Regions from separate parts of the Homo sapiens genome. Here region 2 is linked to region 1. The links come from fine-mapping of genetic effects on gene expression. Tissue or cell type: blood mononuclear cells. Region 1 holds a variant in brackets; the other region holds the start of a gene. All regions are shown on one strand. Distances are between the middles of the regions.

What was found. PIP is the estimated chance that this variant, and not a neighbour inherited with it, causes the effect.
Region 2: VWF starts here. The variant in region 1 is fine-mapped to the expression of VWF in blood mononuclear cells (TOPMed, PIP above 0.99). The same link has a PIP of 0.9 or more in whole blood.

What each region holds. Positions count from the first base shown.
Region 1 is chr12:6,051,126-6,059,125 of GRCh38, forward strand. It overlaps VWF (von Willebrand factor), which reads right to left. Exons shown (of 52, transcript NM_000552.5): 14 at 6,724-6,919; 15 at 5,732-5,947; 16 at 1,418-1,658. Among named protein-coding and RNA genes, the nearest start is that of SNORA120, 15 kb to the left of the region's middle. RefSeq lists enhancers at 6,976-7,483, 7,484-7,991. The variant C/CA (reference allele first, on the strand shown) is at 3,662.
Region 2 is chr12:6,119,935-6,127,934 of GRCh38, forward strand. VWF (von Willebrand factor) reads right to left here and starts at 4,736. Exons shown (of 52, transcript NM_000552.5): 1 at 4,487-4,736; 2 at 3,208-3,262; 3 at 1,240-1,404. The coding sequence starts at 3,262.

The DNA.
Region 1 (8,000 bases):
AACTATTCCAGCCACACAGCAGAGGAGTCAATAGACAAAATAAGAATGGTAAAGTGCTGATAATCATTGAAGCTGGGAATGGATACGTTGGGGCTCCTTATACTATTCTCTCTACTTTAATGTCTGTCTGAAATTTTCCATAATCAGGACTTCTTTTTTTCTTTTTTTTTTTTTTTTTTTTTTTGAGATAGAGTCTCGCTCTGTCACCCAGGCTGGAGTGCAGTGGCAAGATCTCAGCTCACTGCAACCTCCGCCTCCTGGGTTCAAGCAATTCTCCTGCCTCAGCCTCCCAAATAGCTGGGACTACAGGCACCCGCTACCACACCCAGCTAATTTTTTGTATTTTCACCGTGTTAGCCAGGATGGTCTCGATCTACTGACCTCGTGATCCGCCCACCTCGGCCTCCCTAAGTGTTGGGATTACAGGCGTGAGCCACTGTGCCTGGCCAATCAGGATGTTTCTAACTGGTCTTCCCTAGTAGACTATCAGGTACTGTGTCTGGTGACTGGATTTCCCTCTGTCGCCCGGGCTAGAATGCAGTGGCGCGATCACAGTTCACTGCAGCCTTGGCTTCCTGGGCTCAAGCAATCTTCCCACCTCAGTATTTCAAGTGGCTGGGTCTACAGGTATGCACCACCATGGCCAACTATTTTTTTTTCTTTGTATTTAGGGACAGGGCCTCACTATGTTGCCCAGGCTGCTCTCAAACTCCCAGGCTCAAGCATTCCTCCCACTTCCACCTCCCAAAGTGCTGGGGATTACAGATGTGAGCCACTGCCCCAGCCTGGCTCATCTTTAGACCACCAATTCTTAGCCAGAACTAAGACAGAACAGGTGACAGGTAAGTGTTTGCTCAACAAATGTCCTGTTGTAAATTTCTTCCACGCTCATGGCAACCCTGTTGAAACCGACTGTCACAGAAGGCCTAGGCAAAGAGCTGCAGGAAGCAAGCATGATTTGGAGCTATTTTGGGGAAGTGCATGAAGCAGGTCAGGGTAGCAATGCCCCATGGAGGCAGCGCTGCAGTGGTCCATGTTCTTCCTGCTCAAATGCTTCAGCTTGAGAATACTGAAAGCAGGCTGGAAAGGAGGGTGACAGGCAGATCTCCCTTTTCCTGTTCCAGAAAAGGAAAACTGAGACCTAAAGCCCAGAAATGGGGGCCAACACATAACAGTTGGCAATAAAACTCAAGAACTCCTACTGCCAGCCAGGAATCCCAGTTCCCTGTGTAGTAAGGAAGTCAGAAGACCTGGACCAAATCCCAGCTCCGCTTCTGACTTGCTGTACAGTTCTGGACAAGTCACTTCCTTCCTTGGGCCCCAGTTTACCCATCCATGAAGTAAAGGACTTGGGGGTCCCGTTTTCCTCCCCAGCTCTGCTGTTTTAGAGGTCCCTGACACTGCTGCCTGCACTTACCACATGGTGTGATGGTCTGAGAAGATGTCTTCTGGCTGGAAGATCTCACCGTCATAGTAACAGGGGCACTGGGCCTTGGGCACGCAGTCCCCCCTCTCATCCATGTAGAGCCCTGGGGGGCAGAAGCAGCCCTCCAGGCAGGCCTCATTGCATTCCTCATCCGGGTAAGAGAGAGAGCGGCAGGTCAGGTTGCAGGGGGTCCCGCACTGCAGGTACACCTGGCCTTTCGGGCAGTTCAGCTCTAGAAGAGAGAGGAGAAGTAAGGCCTCAGCGGGAATGTTGGACAGCAAGGACTGTGGTTCTAGGACTTGCCACCCCTTGTAGCTGTGACCCCCAATTATTTAATTAAAATTTTTATTGAGATAATTGTAGACTTGCTTGCAATTACAAGAAGTAATGCAGAAAGATCCCATGTACCCTTTACCCAGTTTTCCCCAAGTGACCCCCAATTATATCTGTATGGTCATCAACTTCCTTTCCCACTATGAGCAAATGTGTATTTTTCAGCATGCAGATATGTATTATAATTATGGGGGCACACATTTTCTCCTTTCCTCAACCACAGGGAATGTGCATTAGTCATCTCTGAATTCTCAAAGCCTAGGATGTAGTAGAAATCCTGGCAGGTTTTGAAGCTGTGAATATTAAAAAGTACTGGGAATGACGGGCAAGGGCATACCCCGTGACAACAATGAGTACCATTTATGGAGCACCTACTGAATGCCTTGCTCTTACGTGGGCTCTATGCCTCATGCCGAGTTAGCTCTCATCACCCCCTTTCAAGAAACTTAGGCTGAGTGACTTGTTAGGGGTATACCTCACAGGAAGAAGCAGAGGAAGGATTTGAACTCAGCTCTCTGCAGCCCTAAAGCTCATGCTCATAACCCTTACTCTCTAGAAAGAAAACAGTCCCTTTGAGGACATGCTGGTCCCAAAGAGGAGGGACACTCATGCCTACCACAGCGAAATGGGCTGCACCCATCTGCCCACAGCCCTCACCCTCCCTAGCCTCCCACAGAAAAATACTGCAAGAGACACAAGCCAGAAGGAAGTGTAGCAAAGTGGCAACGCAGCTAAGGGAACGGGCTCTGTATCCCAAATACCTGGGTTCACGCCCAGGTCCACCACTAGCTGGCTGTGTGATCTTGGGCAGTATCCTCACTGGATGGAATAACAGTATCCACCCAGTCTTTGTGAAGGTTGAATGAGCTAACACATTTAGAAGAATGTCTGGCATGTGGAGAATGTTCACTGCTAATAATGTTCACTGATAATAATTATTATTCTTATTGCTAAGGAAACAGCCCCAGCTCAGCGGTCCCAAGAAGGAAGGAGTGTTCCAGAGAAAGGCCTAGGCCTCAGAAGCTCTGGCATTCTGGTGACAAAATTCCTTATGGGCAGGGTAGAGGACAGGGAAGGTGTGGGGAGCATTCTGCCCTTTCAAAATGCCTTCCCTGTGCAGACCAGCTGCTGCCCAAGAAATGAGAACCTCACCCTGGGCATGCTTCTTCTGAGACCATCACAATCCTTCCCCTCTCTGTTCAAATCCATTGCTCCAGCAGAAACCTACTGGCAGGGCATTTCACAGATGTTATAAAAGTAAGCCTTGGCCGTGAGCCTGAACAATGGAGTGGGGAGCCTCTGGAGAGACCCTGCAGCCTCCCGCTCCTACAACCACCCTGAACTTGGTGTTTGAAGGTAGCTGGGAAGGGAGGGCCTCTTTAATCCTATTAGACATTGATTTTTCTCTGCAAGAATGGAAAGGTTGGATTATTGGATGAATACTGAGGGAGTGTAGGTTAAGACAGGATGTGTTAGACAATAAAGATGGAGATGTCTTTCAACCACCTGAGCCTACAATGACAAGGGCACATTTTACCCATTAAAAAGCAGCTAGACTTGAGAACTTTCTTTGTTCTGATAGGCTATCTCTAGGGCTGGCTTGGAGCCTTATTAAATTTCTCCTTTAGCCTTCTTCCCCAAAGAAACAATGCACATCTCAGTTTAGCAGACACTTCTTGTGTATCCACTGCATGCCAGGGGCTATGCTAGGCCCAGGGAGGCAGAGATGGCCAGCCCTGGTCCTTGCCTTCAGAAAGCCTGTGGTCCTGTCTTCCCAAAGGGAGCACAACCAATTTGCAAGAGGAAAAAAAATGTGTGTGCTTCTCATCAATCTCCTCACACCATCCCACAAAGTAGCTACATGGTAAGTCTGTGCTCCCTGAGTGTCTCCAATTGATGTGA[C/CA]CTCTTCTTACGAATAGATTCACTGGTTTAGGGAGCTCTGTTCATTTCTCTGGAAGAGAAAGTGGAAGTGGGTAGAGGGGACAGCTGAGCCTGAGCTCTTCTCCAAGTCAAGAAAAGATTGGGGCAAGAACCCAGGAGACTTACCCAACTGCCTTGGGTACAAAGGGACAGCCCAAGGCCATCTGGTCAGCCCAGTCTCTTGTCACATAAACCCACAGAGACAGACCCCTCTTGTCCTTAACAGTCTCCAGGGAAAGCTCCTTCCTACCACCCTTTCTACCCTATCGTAATGCCTCAGGAGTCAAGACATTCTTTAACTGAATCTTATCCCCACTACTGAAGCATCAGCCCATTTCCCCTGTTCTGTTCAGTGGAGGTTAAGAATGGCTGTTCATGACAGATTAAAGAATATTTCAGTGGGCCCTTAGCATTCCAGGAGAATGTCCTAAATTAAGAAATCCTGCGGATGCTGCCACATACTGATAATGCATCATTTCTAACACTGGTGGACAAGCAAAGAATATTCACAAGCAGCATCTCATTCACTCCTCATTACTTTCCCCAATTTCTAAATAGCAAATGCTAAGGAAGAAACTGAAGTGCAAAGGGGTTACGTGAAGGGTTCAAGGTCCCATAACTGGTACCTCACGGGAAAGTTGCCAGTAAGGACCCAGACCCAGTTGTCCCAGCCCCTAGCCTGTGGCTCCCCAAGACATCCCAGAGCTGGAGGAATGGGGAGGGCACAACGGCTGCATTATGTGCTCGTCCCTTTCGTCCTTACTGTTGTCTCTGCTCCTCTTTCATATGACATTTCTACAACTCAAAACATGAGTTGGCTCATTGGACCCAAAATAGTAGCACTTCTAGGGTCCCCATGCCTACACTGCTCCTGAAATATAGATGCTAATTCCTTTCACTGTTTCTCATAACTCCTCTTCCAACAGGACCATCTACTTTATATATATATATATGTATACACACACACACACACACACACACACACACACACACAGGGTCTTTCTCTGTTGGCCAGGTCAGAGTGCAGTGGTGCGATCATAACTCACTGCAGCCTTAAATTCCTAGACTCAAGCAATCCTCTTGCCTCAACCTCCCAAGTAGCTGGGACTACACCTACATTTTAATTTCTAAACACATCTACTTTACCCTAAAAAACAGAATATCCACTATGCCTTATTCTTAACAGAATATACTCGTCACTTCTATGCCTACTATGATTCTACCATTGGAAACAAGTCTTCTCTGCCAAGAAAGCAGCTTTTTAAAACCCTAGCCAAGTACACGTCCTCCAGAAAGCCTTCCTTGGTTTTCCCTGCCCTGAATCTACTCATCCTTTCACTTAGTAGGATAGGTATCTAGTAGGGCGGCCATTTCCATCTGTGACTCTAACAGTAAGTTTGGAGTTCCACATCATCACTGTTGCCCGACCACACTGGGCATGCAGCAAATGTCCCCAGAGCAATAACAAAAACAAAAAAGTGAGCACAATAGATACCACCTCTGGTGCCAGGAATCCAACAGTGCAGAGTGAGAATCTAAAGCCAACTGGGGACAGTGATGTAATTCACCTTTAGGTAACTTTATACAACGCCAGAGGTTTTGTCCATCGGTGGTTTGCCTGGAGTTACAAGCAAAGGGTTTGTATGTGAATTTCCCTTGCCTTCATCGGACTCTTAAGGGAGGCGGAGACCCAGTGGGATCTGGGACCCATTCGCTCCACAGCCTGACCTTCTGTGCTGAACGAACACTAGGTGGCAGCGGCCACGGGAAACCCAAGCTTTGCAGGGACCCCCACGTTCTAGGCCTCCAGGTAGGAGGAGCCAACCTGTCTTCCTGGAACAGGCCCGAATCATCAGCCGGTCCCCACCGCCTGTCCTGCTGGGAGGTGGAAGGGAAAAGTGGGTGCAAATGAACCGTCCTCCCCACCCGTGTTTGTCACAATGCCCTACGCCCTCTTTCCACAGGAAACAACGCAGAGAAAGGGCTTCGAAAAGCACACGTGGACGGATTTGGGGGGCGGCCCGGAGGGCTGCGGGCAGGGAGGGCACGCACCACAGCGGCCTGGCTCGCGCCACGCGACGCGCACGCCTCTCCCCGCGCAGGCCGCGGCATAGCTGGCCAGGGCGCCGCACAGGCACTCGCGGCCGTCCGAGCAGGAGCACACGTCGTAGCGGCAGTTCCGCAGGTAGGGCAGCGGGCTGACGGCACGATGGCAGGCCTCGAATGTGGGGGACGTCAGGACCGCGCACGCCTCCTCGGAGAACCTGGCTGTGGGGCGAGAGGAGCGAGCCTGGGATGTGGTGGGGAGGAGTGGGGGCCACGCCCTCCCGGTCAACACTCCCCTGGAAATAGCCCAGTGCTGCTAATAGAGGGCTGCAAGGTCACGCAGAGAAATCTGCAAATGCCACCCCCACCCCCAAGTCCATTTATCTTACAATCATCTAACGCTGAGTTTGTAAGCTGCTGCTGCAGTAGACTGGGAAGGTCGAAGGACGGGGACTATGGAATTTTTTTTTTTTTTTTTTGGAGAGACACGGTCTTGCTCTGTCGCCCGGGCTGGAGTGCAGAAATGCGATCTTGGCTCACTGCGGCCTTGCCTTCCTGGGTTCATGCAACCGTCCCACGTAGCTCCCAAGTAGTTGGGATTACAGGCGCGCCCCACCACGCCCGGCAAATTTATTATTATTATTATTATTATTATTATTATTATTATTATTATTATTTTAATAGAAATGGGGGCTCCCTACGTTGCCCAGACTGGTCTCGAACTCCTGCCCTCAAGCGATCCTCCCGCCTCGGTAGACTTTTTTTTTTTTTTTCTTTCCCGGGGGTTGGCCTGTGGCGGGCGCCCAATAAAGGGACTTTGAAGAGCAAATGGCCCAGTTCAGATGATCAAGTGCTGACGGTAAAAACAAAGCCCGACCCCTTTCCTCGCTCCCCGCCCCCGCCCTCCGCGGTGGGAGCACTGCCTCCGGAACGCACTGCACTAATGTGGAGACCTCGAGATTCTGCGAGGTCCCTGCCTTGCCCCCGGGTTCACATACTCATGCGCGGGTTGAGGGCGCAGGGATCGCTGTGCTGCTTCTGCAGGTCCTGGCAGTCCCCGTGCAGCTTCCAGGCGTTCCCGAAGTCCTCCACCCGGGGCTCCGCCAGCCCAGAGGGGGTAAGGAAGTCGTCGCCCTGGTTGCCATTGTAATTCCCACACAGGCCGCAGGTCTTCCCGGCATAGACGGGGGACAGCTGCAGGAGAGACCAGGCCACTCTGGAGCCGCTGCCGCGAAAGCAGCGGCATAGTTGTTTAGCTAATGAGATGGTTTTAATAAAAAAAAAAAAGTTCCCCGGGTGAAACATAAATATGAATGTAATAAAAGGCAGCTAAGCCCTAGGCTGCAAAAGGGGGGGCGGGGGAAAGTGAACTGCAGTGTAAATTTACCAGCTCCATCCCTGTTCCCAAATCATCAGAGCCCTGTACTGCCACAAGAGATTTTAGAAATTATCAGATCATCTAAGGATGGAGAAGGGAGGCCCAAAGAGGCAAAGTGACTTGCCTAAGGTCAGGGAGGTAGTGGCGGAGCTAGGGTGAGTAGGCAGGTTGAGCCCAGCCCGAAGCACTCTGCCCTCTGTGCCATCCACACCAGTGGGCCTGACCCCCCCACCCAGAGTTACGTGCAAACTCAAGGCCCCTCTATATAGAAAGACTTCGCGTTGGTCACTCGGTGTGGGCCCAGCAGGCTGCCAGGTGTGGTCCAAGCCCTCCGGGAGCTCACGGTTAATGACAAGAAACACCTCCCCACAACCTGCTGCCTGCCACTCAGGCCCTGGGCATCACTGAAGAGAAAGGGCCACGAGCCACAGAAGACTCTGAGGGTGATGATGGATAGGAGTAGGAGTCTGCAGAGGCTCTGAGGCAGCCTGCCAGGGTGACAGCAGCAAAGCAGCGGCACAGTTCAAACTCCAGGCCATGAGCATGTGGTTTACTGTCCATTCTCAGAACTGAACAAAGTTCTGAGCCCAAAGTGCACATTCGGGAACAACCAGCAGAGTGGAGCCCGCCCTTCCCCCACACAGCTGGGGGCATCTGCTGGTTTCTACGGAGAGGACCCCGATTTGAAGGTGGAGCGGGGGCTGGGACCCAGGAGTCCTGACTCCCTCTCCGCATGTCATTACCAAGGTGGGATGACCTCCCTGCGTTCTGAATCCCTCAGGGGCTAGGGTCAGCTCTTAGAGCCCCTTTTCAGCTTCCAGCTCCAACCTAACAAAATGCAGGGTTAACAATCCAGTAGAAGGTCCCAGGCCCATAGAAATCGAACCCAAGTAAACA
Region 2 (8,000 bases), 69 kb after region 1:
CTTGTCCCTGAGGAGCTCATGGAGGAGTGGGAAGGATGGCAGTGCCCAGAAGTCATATGTGATAAGTTTCCCAGCAGAGTCAGGGCAGGTAGCAAAGATGGCCTCAGGGAGAAAGCAGGAATGCGGGGAGCTCATAGCTATAGCCAGGTGCTAGACAGAGCCTAGCCCAGTGCTGGGCACATGGAGGACCCTGTGTCAGTCCCCGCTGACTGATGGAGCAATGACCCCAGGAGCCCTACAGCCCAGATCTCAGGTAAGTGTCCAGGTGTTGCCAAAGACTCCCTCCTTGACCAAACTTGAGTGGGGCACTTCTGAGCCCTCTTCTAGATTAAGCCTTGGCCTTGGGCTCTGTCCTTGGCCTGCTTAGTCCAGTTTTTTTGTTTTTTGTGGGTTGTTTTTTTTTTTGAGATGGAGTCTCGCTCTGTTGCCCAGGCTGGAGTGTATCTCAGCTTATTGCAACCAGGTTCAAGCGATTCTCCTGCCTCAGCCTCCCAAGTAGCTGGGATTATAGACACACACCACCACACCCGGCTAATTTTTGTATTTTTAGTAGAGATGGGGTTTCACCATGTTGGCCAGGCTGGTCTCAAACTCTTGACCTCAGGTGATCCACCCACCTTGGCCTCCCAAAGTACTGGGATTACAGGCATGAGCCACCGTGCCCGGCCTCAGCTCCACCTTTTATTGTCTGTCAGGCCTTGGAAGGATCATGCAACCTTCATGAGCCTTGGTTCTCCATTGGTAAAACTGGGATGACTACAGCTACATCCCAGGGCTGTTGTGGGGATGCAGGGACATGGCAGGGACAGTACCAGCCCTTCTGCAGGAATACAGGAAGTCCTCAGCATAAGCTGATGTTCTGATCCACAGGCCACCAAGAAAACAACAACGAGTCTTCTCTCTGGCAAGGAGTTTTACACGTTCCAAAGCACCTTCTCTAGTTCATCATTTGCCTTGATGCTGTGGAGTTCCCAGGGCATCGCCGGGCCCCAGAGCAACGGACACAGTGGACTACCAAAGATGAAGACTCTCTTCATCCATCCCACCCGGCTCCCGTGGGGAGAGACCCGGGGAAAGCCAAGAGGGGCTACGTGTCACAGAAAGGCTGTTCCTCTCCTTGTTCTCAGCAGTGACCTTTCCGCTCAGACACTGTCCTGAGAGCAGGAATCCTCCCCCACACCAGGGCTAAGCTCAGCCAGCCCTCCCTCTGAAGTCCTCCCTGCAGTGCCCAGAACTCACCAATAATCGAGAAGGAGCGTTTCTGGCAGCCCCCTGCCAGGAGGTAACTGCAGTATCCCGCAAAGCTGTACATGCTCCCATCAAAGGTGTTGACGAAGTCACTTCCGAAAAGGCTGCATCGGGCCGTGGATGACCTGCCGCGAGTTCCTTCTGCACAAAGGGTCCCTGGAGGGAGAGGCCACAGGTTGGGCTGGTGATCTCAGGGCACAACTGGGACCATCAGCTCAAACCTCTCTGGCCTCGTAGAAATTAGACTGCCTCTGATAGAAACTGGGCTGTGGGGAGGTATTTTCCATCCTAAATGAGACTAAAGCTGTTGCTTTCAGCTCCCAGATATGACCCCAGACTCACAGCAATAACTAAGGAACAGTTTTTCAGGAAATCCATTAGTTTCAATGACATTTACTTACTGATTTAAAATGTCATCATGTCCATTATTAAAAATTTGGGGCATACAGAAGAAAACAAAGAAGCTGGCCGGGCACAGTGGCTCACGCCTATAATCCCAGCACTTTGGGAGGCCGAGGTGGGCAGATCACCTGAGGTCAGGAATTCAAGACCAGCCTGCCCAACATGGCGAAACCCTGTCTCTACTAAAAATACAAAAACTAGCCGGGTGTAGTGGTGGGCGCCTGTAATCCCAGCTACTGGTGAGGCTGAGGCAGGAGAATCACTTGAGCCCAGGAGGCAGAGGTTGCAGGGAGCCAACATCATACCACTGCACTCTAGACTGGGCGACAGAGTGAGACTCTGTCTCGAAAAAAAAAAGAAAAAGAAAAAGAAAAGAAAAGACAAAGAAGTTAAAACCATCTGTAACCCAACATTCAGCGATGATTAGAGTTAACATTTCAATGTTCATCTTTCCATTTTGTTGTATAGCATATATACAGCTGTGGGTTTTTTATAAATTGGTGACCAACTTGTGCAAACTACCTATAACCTCTGTTTATTTCTCAATAGATTGTAAACAATTTGTCGTGCTAGTGTATATACTTCCAATATGCGGTTTTTAGTGGCTGCATTATATTTTGCATCTGAATGTCTATAGTATAGCCCTCTATTGTTAGGTTTCTAGCATTTTTCCATGTTTTAATATTATAGATAGATTGCAGTGAGCATCTTTGTACATAAATCTACTAGCATGTCTTGGGCATGTTAAATTTTAAACAGATCAGACTGTGTGCCTGACACATAGACTCTCTGAAGTGTGAACTCCTCCGGCGTCACAGGCTAACTCCTTCACTGACTATGGGTGTGTGTGTGTCGGCAGGTGGGGAAATACAGCAGTAAATCTCTAAGTGTTCTGGGTTCCCCGGCAAAAGACCCACCTAGTAGGAAGATGCAGAGAGTGTGACAAATGTGTATTTTTTTTCCCAGACTCACCTGTGGGCAGTAGCTGGATGCTGCTGACCTGAGAGATCTAAGTGGAAAGCGCCCAAGGTCAAAAGTCCCCTCCCGCCATTTGCAGACCCAGAATCTTAGCAAGGGAAGGGCAGCAGTATGATGCAGTGCAGTGGAAAGGGTGTTGGCCTGGAACCCAGGAAGACTGACCTCTGATTTTGGCTCTAGGAGACTTTGGAGCAGTCATTTCTCCTCTCTGACCCTCAGTCTCTTCATTGTACCATGGGAGGTTCAACAAGGTGACCTCCACAATCTTATCGAAAACTAATAATCCATCCAAGTCTTGGATTCCTTCCTCCTCATCCTGTGCCCCCATAATATAGGACAGTTCTGTGCCACCTTTATGCTTCTTAATTCCCCAACAGGAGATGGCATTTGCAGGCACCTGGTCTCTGGAATACAAGTCAAGGGTGGGAACTCCGCAGAACCTTCACAGGAGGCAACCAACAGCCTAAGTTAGGGCTGGGCACACAGGTGAGCTCCAGACACACCTGCTGATTCCCGGAAAGGTGTCACTCCAGATGGCCCTGGGGCAGGAATGAGAAATGGAGGCCCTTTTGTACCTACCTGGCAAAATGAGGGCCAGAGCAAGCAGCACCCCGGCAAATCTGGCAGGAATCATCTGCAAAGAAGCAAGAGACGTGAGCTGGTCATTGCTGCCCAGGTAGGCGGCTGCTGGTGTGGCGACTATCAGGGCATGCAGTAGCAAAAACATTTCTTTAAAGCAGGAGAAAAGATTGATCCTCGTGACCCCCTTTTCCCCTTTGAACATGGACTTCTGGCCCCCGAAAAAACCCCTGGCCAGTGCCAGGCCCAAGGGTAACAATCGCTGTGAGCTGGGACCTGTGGGCACCTTTCCACAGACAGCAGTCCCAGGCCCAAGACAGGAGGAAAACGCTGCCTTCCCTCCAGGCCCGCTGGGCCTCACATCCCTGCCTCCTGAAGCAGCTGGGAGCTAACACACACCTCATTCCTTCCTGCCTCTGCATCCAAACTGGCGAGTAGGAACCGTCTTACACTTGTGTGCCCACCACAGCAGCCCAGACATAGAGAATGCTCAGGAACCACCAACTTGACGGTTTGCTTGTTGGCCCCTGACTCTGTACCACAAGTGCCTTCACAAGAGCAAAGGCTGTCTCCCTTGCCTCCAACCCCAGCACCTGGCAAGATGCTTAGCACCCAGGAGATGCCCAGCAAATGTTTGCTGAGTTCATCTGAAAAAATGGACAGGAGTCCAGCGGCCCTGGATGCAGGCAGACTTCCCCACTGTGTGACCCCCAAGAGAGGGACAATTCATCCTGGCTGGCAGAGCGTACCCCAAGTCACTTAGAGCCCCTGCTGTAGCCCCTCTCCTCGGGAAAAGTTGTTAAATGAAGTGCAGAATCTGCTGCCTGAGATTCACTGGGGGTGACTCCCTTCCTACCTAAGGTCCCATCCAGCCAAAGGTGAAATCAAGCCAATCTGTGATACATCTGTGGAAGGAACACTGAGATGTCAGATACTGCCAGGTCTCGGTCTCCAAGCAGGTGTCCCCTCCCAGTCCTAACACGCAGGTACATTCAGCTGCTCCCAGGTTCTCAGAGGTGAGGGCAAACTTCATTCCAACTCATTTGAGTGAAGTACTATCAAACAGTAAAACCCACTGCATGAAGAAAAGCAGCCCCAGGACCCTCAGAGGCAAGTGGAGGAGGGAGTATTAGGATCATCCCTGGCTGAATTGAATTGCCCCTCCAAACAAAGCCCTTCTAGTCCAGCGACAGAGAACTCCAGCTCCCCAGGAGCAGGGATCAGTCAGTCCTGCATCTTCCTCCCACAACTGAGCCAGCTCTCCTTCCAAAGGCCATACCTTCCCCTGCAAATGAGGGCTGCGGCTATCTCCAAGGTCCCTGGGAAACTCAGCTGCTGGACAATGGTGCCGCCCACCCTAGGCCATGCTCTCAGCTGCTGCAAAGGCTCAATCAGGTCTGCTACAGCTCCGGACTGTCTTGCTGTTATGTAGCCCAGGGGCTGTGGAGTCCCCACTGCTGGGGGAGATAAAGCCCAAGCTGTGACATCCACCAACCACCCTCCCTTTCCCACCACAATAGCTGTGAGCTGCCACAACAGGGGATTGGCCTCCTTTTAATTACCAAAAGGAAACAATGAAAGGAAATGGTATTAGAAGTACCTCCAAGCTGATAAAGCTTTGTAGAGTTTGGAGGGAGACCTCCTGGCAGCTGCCTTAATTAACTGCCTTGCCCTCCCCAAACACCCCCTATCCCTACACCCCCACACTTGATCCCTGGTCTTCCTAGAGTGCCCCACCTGTGTGGGATAACCAGGAATGCTGGTTGTTTCAGGGCAAGCTGATACAGGCCAGGGGGAATCACAGTAGAACAACACAGCTTCCTGATCCAGCTTCCAGGGCTGGACTCCAGGGAAGTTGAGAAAAACACCTCAACCTGAGCCAATTTTGCTGCTGTGTTTGGAGGAAGGGGAGTACTAACACTTCCTATGCACCCCAGGTATGAAGGATCCGGTCCTGGCCCTGACAAAAACAGTCCATTTGGATCCTGGCCAGGGTTGAATGGATCGGCTAAAGATGAAGGTCTTGGCCACAAGCCTAAGCCTTTGTAAAATGGTGAAGGTGGGGAGTGATGGTTTGAGTCTAATACTTCTACTGTTGCTACATTCTAATAATTCTAATTCTCAAGGACATTTCCACCCACTTCTGGTACCCTGATCTTACACACACACACACACACACACACACACACACACACACACAATTCTTCTTCCCAGCCTCCCATTCCCAAAAGCCTAATTCTCAACACCATCTGCTAAACTAATTCCTACTAAAATAAGTAACTGATGCAATGGGCAGCGGTGGGGGGAAGATGACTCTCGTGCTGGGATTCCAGGCACTGAGACAAGCACCCTGAGGCATGTCTGGGTATGGAAGACCTCCTCACTGCTTCTCCATGATACCTCCTGCCCTAAGACTTTGAGAAACCACTAGGTTCCAACCTCCTCCCTTCCCACATACCTCGCACTCTGCTACTCCCTTTACCGCCCCAGGAGAGGAAGATGCACACTCCCAAGGAAGAAAAATGGCACCAGAGGCAGAATCAGCATGAGACAGTAGAAAAGGCCATTGGGGGGCCGGGCACGGTGGTTCACGCCTGTAATCCCAGCACTTTGGGAGGCCGAGGTGGGCGGATCACGAGGTCAAGGGATCAAGACCATCCTGGCTAACATAGTGAAACCCCGTCTCTACTAAAAACACAAAAAATTAGCCAGGCGTGGTGGCGGGCGCCTGTAGTCCCAGCTACTCGGGAGGCTGAGGCAGGAGAATGGCGTGAACCCGGGAGGCGGAGCTTGCAGTGAGCTGAGATCGAGCCACTGCACTCCAGCCTGGGTGACAGAGCAAGACTCCGTCTCAAGAAAAAAAAGAAAAGAAAAGAAAAGGCCATCGGGATTTCCACTTCCAGCTCTTATTTAAAAAAACTAAATAACTAATCTGAAAACCCTTTCATTACAAAATATCTTTAAATGCTGTGCTAAATACAACAAATGTTCTTTAAATCCACAGTTGATCTGGGAGGAAAGTAAGGAATATCTTAAAGGGTCAATGAGGAAGAGGAGCCTAAATGAGCATGAGGCAGGGTAGGCCCATGGGTGGCCTAGCGTAGGCCAGTCTGGGAACCCTCCAGACTGGAGGCCGCACATTACAAGAATGGGCAGTGCAGCTACGGGCCTGACCCAGAGGGAGAACTAGAACGGAGATCCCTGCAAAAGCTGAAAGTTTGAAGGGAAACATCTTCCAAACAGTGGACCAGGAAAAAAATCCATCCCCCAACCTAGAAGATAAGGAAGTTTGCCTGTCTCCACTTGTTTTGGGGTGGGGTGGCGGGGGGAATTAAGTCTTTTTTTAGAATATTCTTTTCTTTCTTTTTTTTTTTTTGAGATGGAGTCTCGCACTGTCCGCTGGGCTGGAGTGCAGTGATGCAATCATGGCTCACTGCAACCTCTGCCTCCCGGCTTCAAGCAATTCTCCTGCCTCAGCCTCCCAAGTAGCTGGGATTACATGCACACACCACTACACCCAGCTAATTTTTTGTATTTTTAGTAGAGATGGGGTTCCACTATGTTAGCCAGGCTGGTCTCAAACTCCTGACCTCGTGATCTGCCCACCTCGGTCTCCCAAAGTGCTGGGATTACAGGCGTGAGCCACCACGCCCAGTCTAGAATTTTCATCCTTTGCACTCATGCAAATAAAGCTCTCTTGACGATGAATTCAAAATCACAAATTTTTCAACACTTGAGAAAACAATCTACCATGAGCAAGAATTAAATCCCTAAGAATTTCAGATAATAAAATCATCAGAGAAAGATAAAAAGAAAAAAATGAGTGTTTAAAATTATAATAGAGGCTAGGCACGGTGGTTCATGTCTATAATCCTGGCACTTTGGGAGGCTGAGATGGGATAATCGCTTGAGACCAGGAGTTCAAGACCAGCCTGGGCAACACAGCAAGACCCTGTCTTTACAAAGAATAAACTTTTTTCAAGGCAGGGCACGGTGGCTCACGGTGGGTGGATCACAAGGTCAACAGATCAAGACCATCCTGGCCAATATGGTGAAACCCCATCTCTACTAAAAATACAAAAATCAGCTGGGCATGGTGGCACGCACCTGTAGTCCCAGCTACTCTGGAGGCTGAGGCAGGAGAATCGCTTGAACCCGGGAAGCGGAGGCTGCAGTGAGCCAAGATCATGCCACAGCACTCCAGCCTGGTGACCGAGTGAGAGTCCGTTAAAAAAAAAAAAAAAAGAAAGAACAGGAGGAAAACTTGAAAAAGAACTTTAAGGCCAGACGTGGAGGCTCACACCTGTAATCCTAACACTTTGGGAGGCAGAGGCAAGAGGATTGTCTGTGCTCAGTAATTTGAGACTAGCCTACACAACACAGCAAGACCCCATCTCTACAAAAAATAAAAATAAAAAATTAGCTGGGCCTGGCGGTGCATGCCTGTGGTCACAGCTACTCAGGAGGCTGAGGTAGGAGGGAGGACCCCTTGAGCCCAGGAGGTTGAGGTTGCAGTGAGCCATAATCGCGCACTCCAGCCTAGCCAATAGAGTGAGATACTGTCCCAAAAAAAAAAAAAAAGAACTTTAAGAAATGTATATAGTAAATTAATTGAAAAATTCAAAAACACCAGATATTTTTGGGAAAAAAAAAGCTGAAAAATGGTTCTAAAGAAATCACTCAAATATAGAGATGAAAAAATGGAAGAGCAGCCAGGCACAGTGGCTTATGCCTGTAATCCCAGCACTTTGGGAGCCCAAGTAAGGCAGATCACTTGTGGTCAGGAGTTCGAG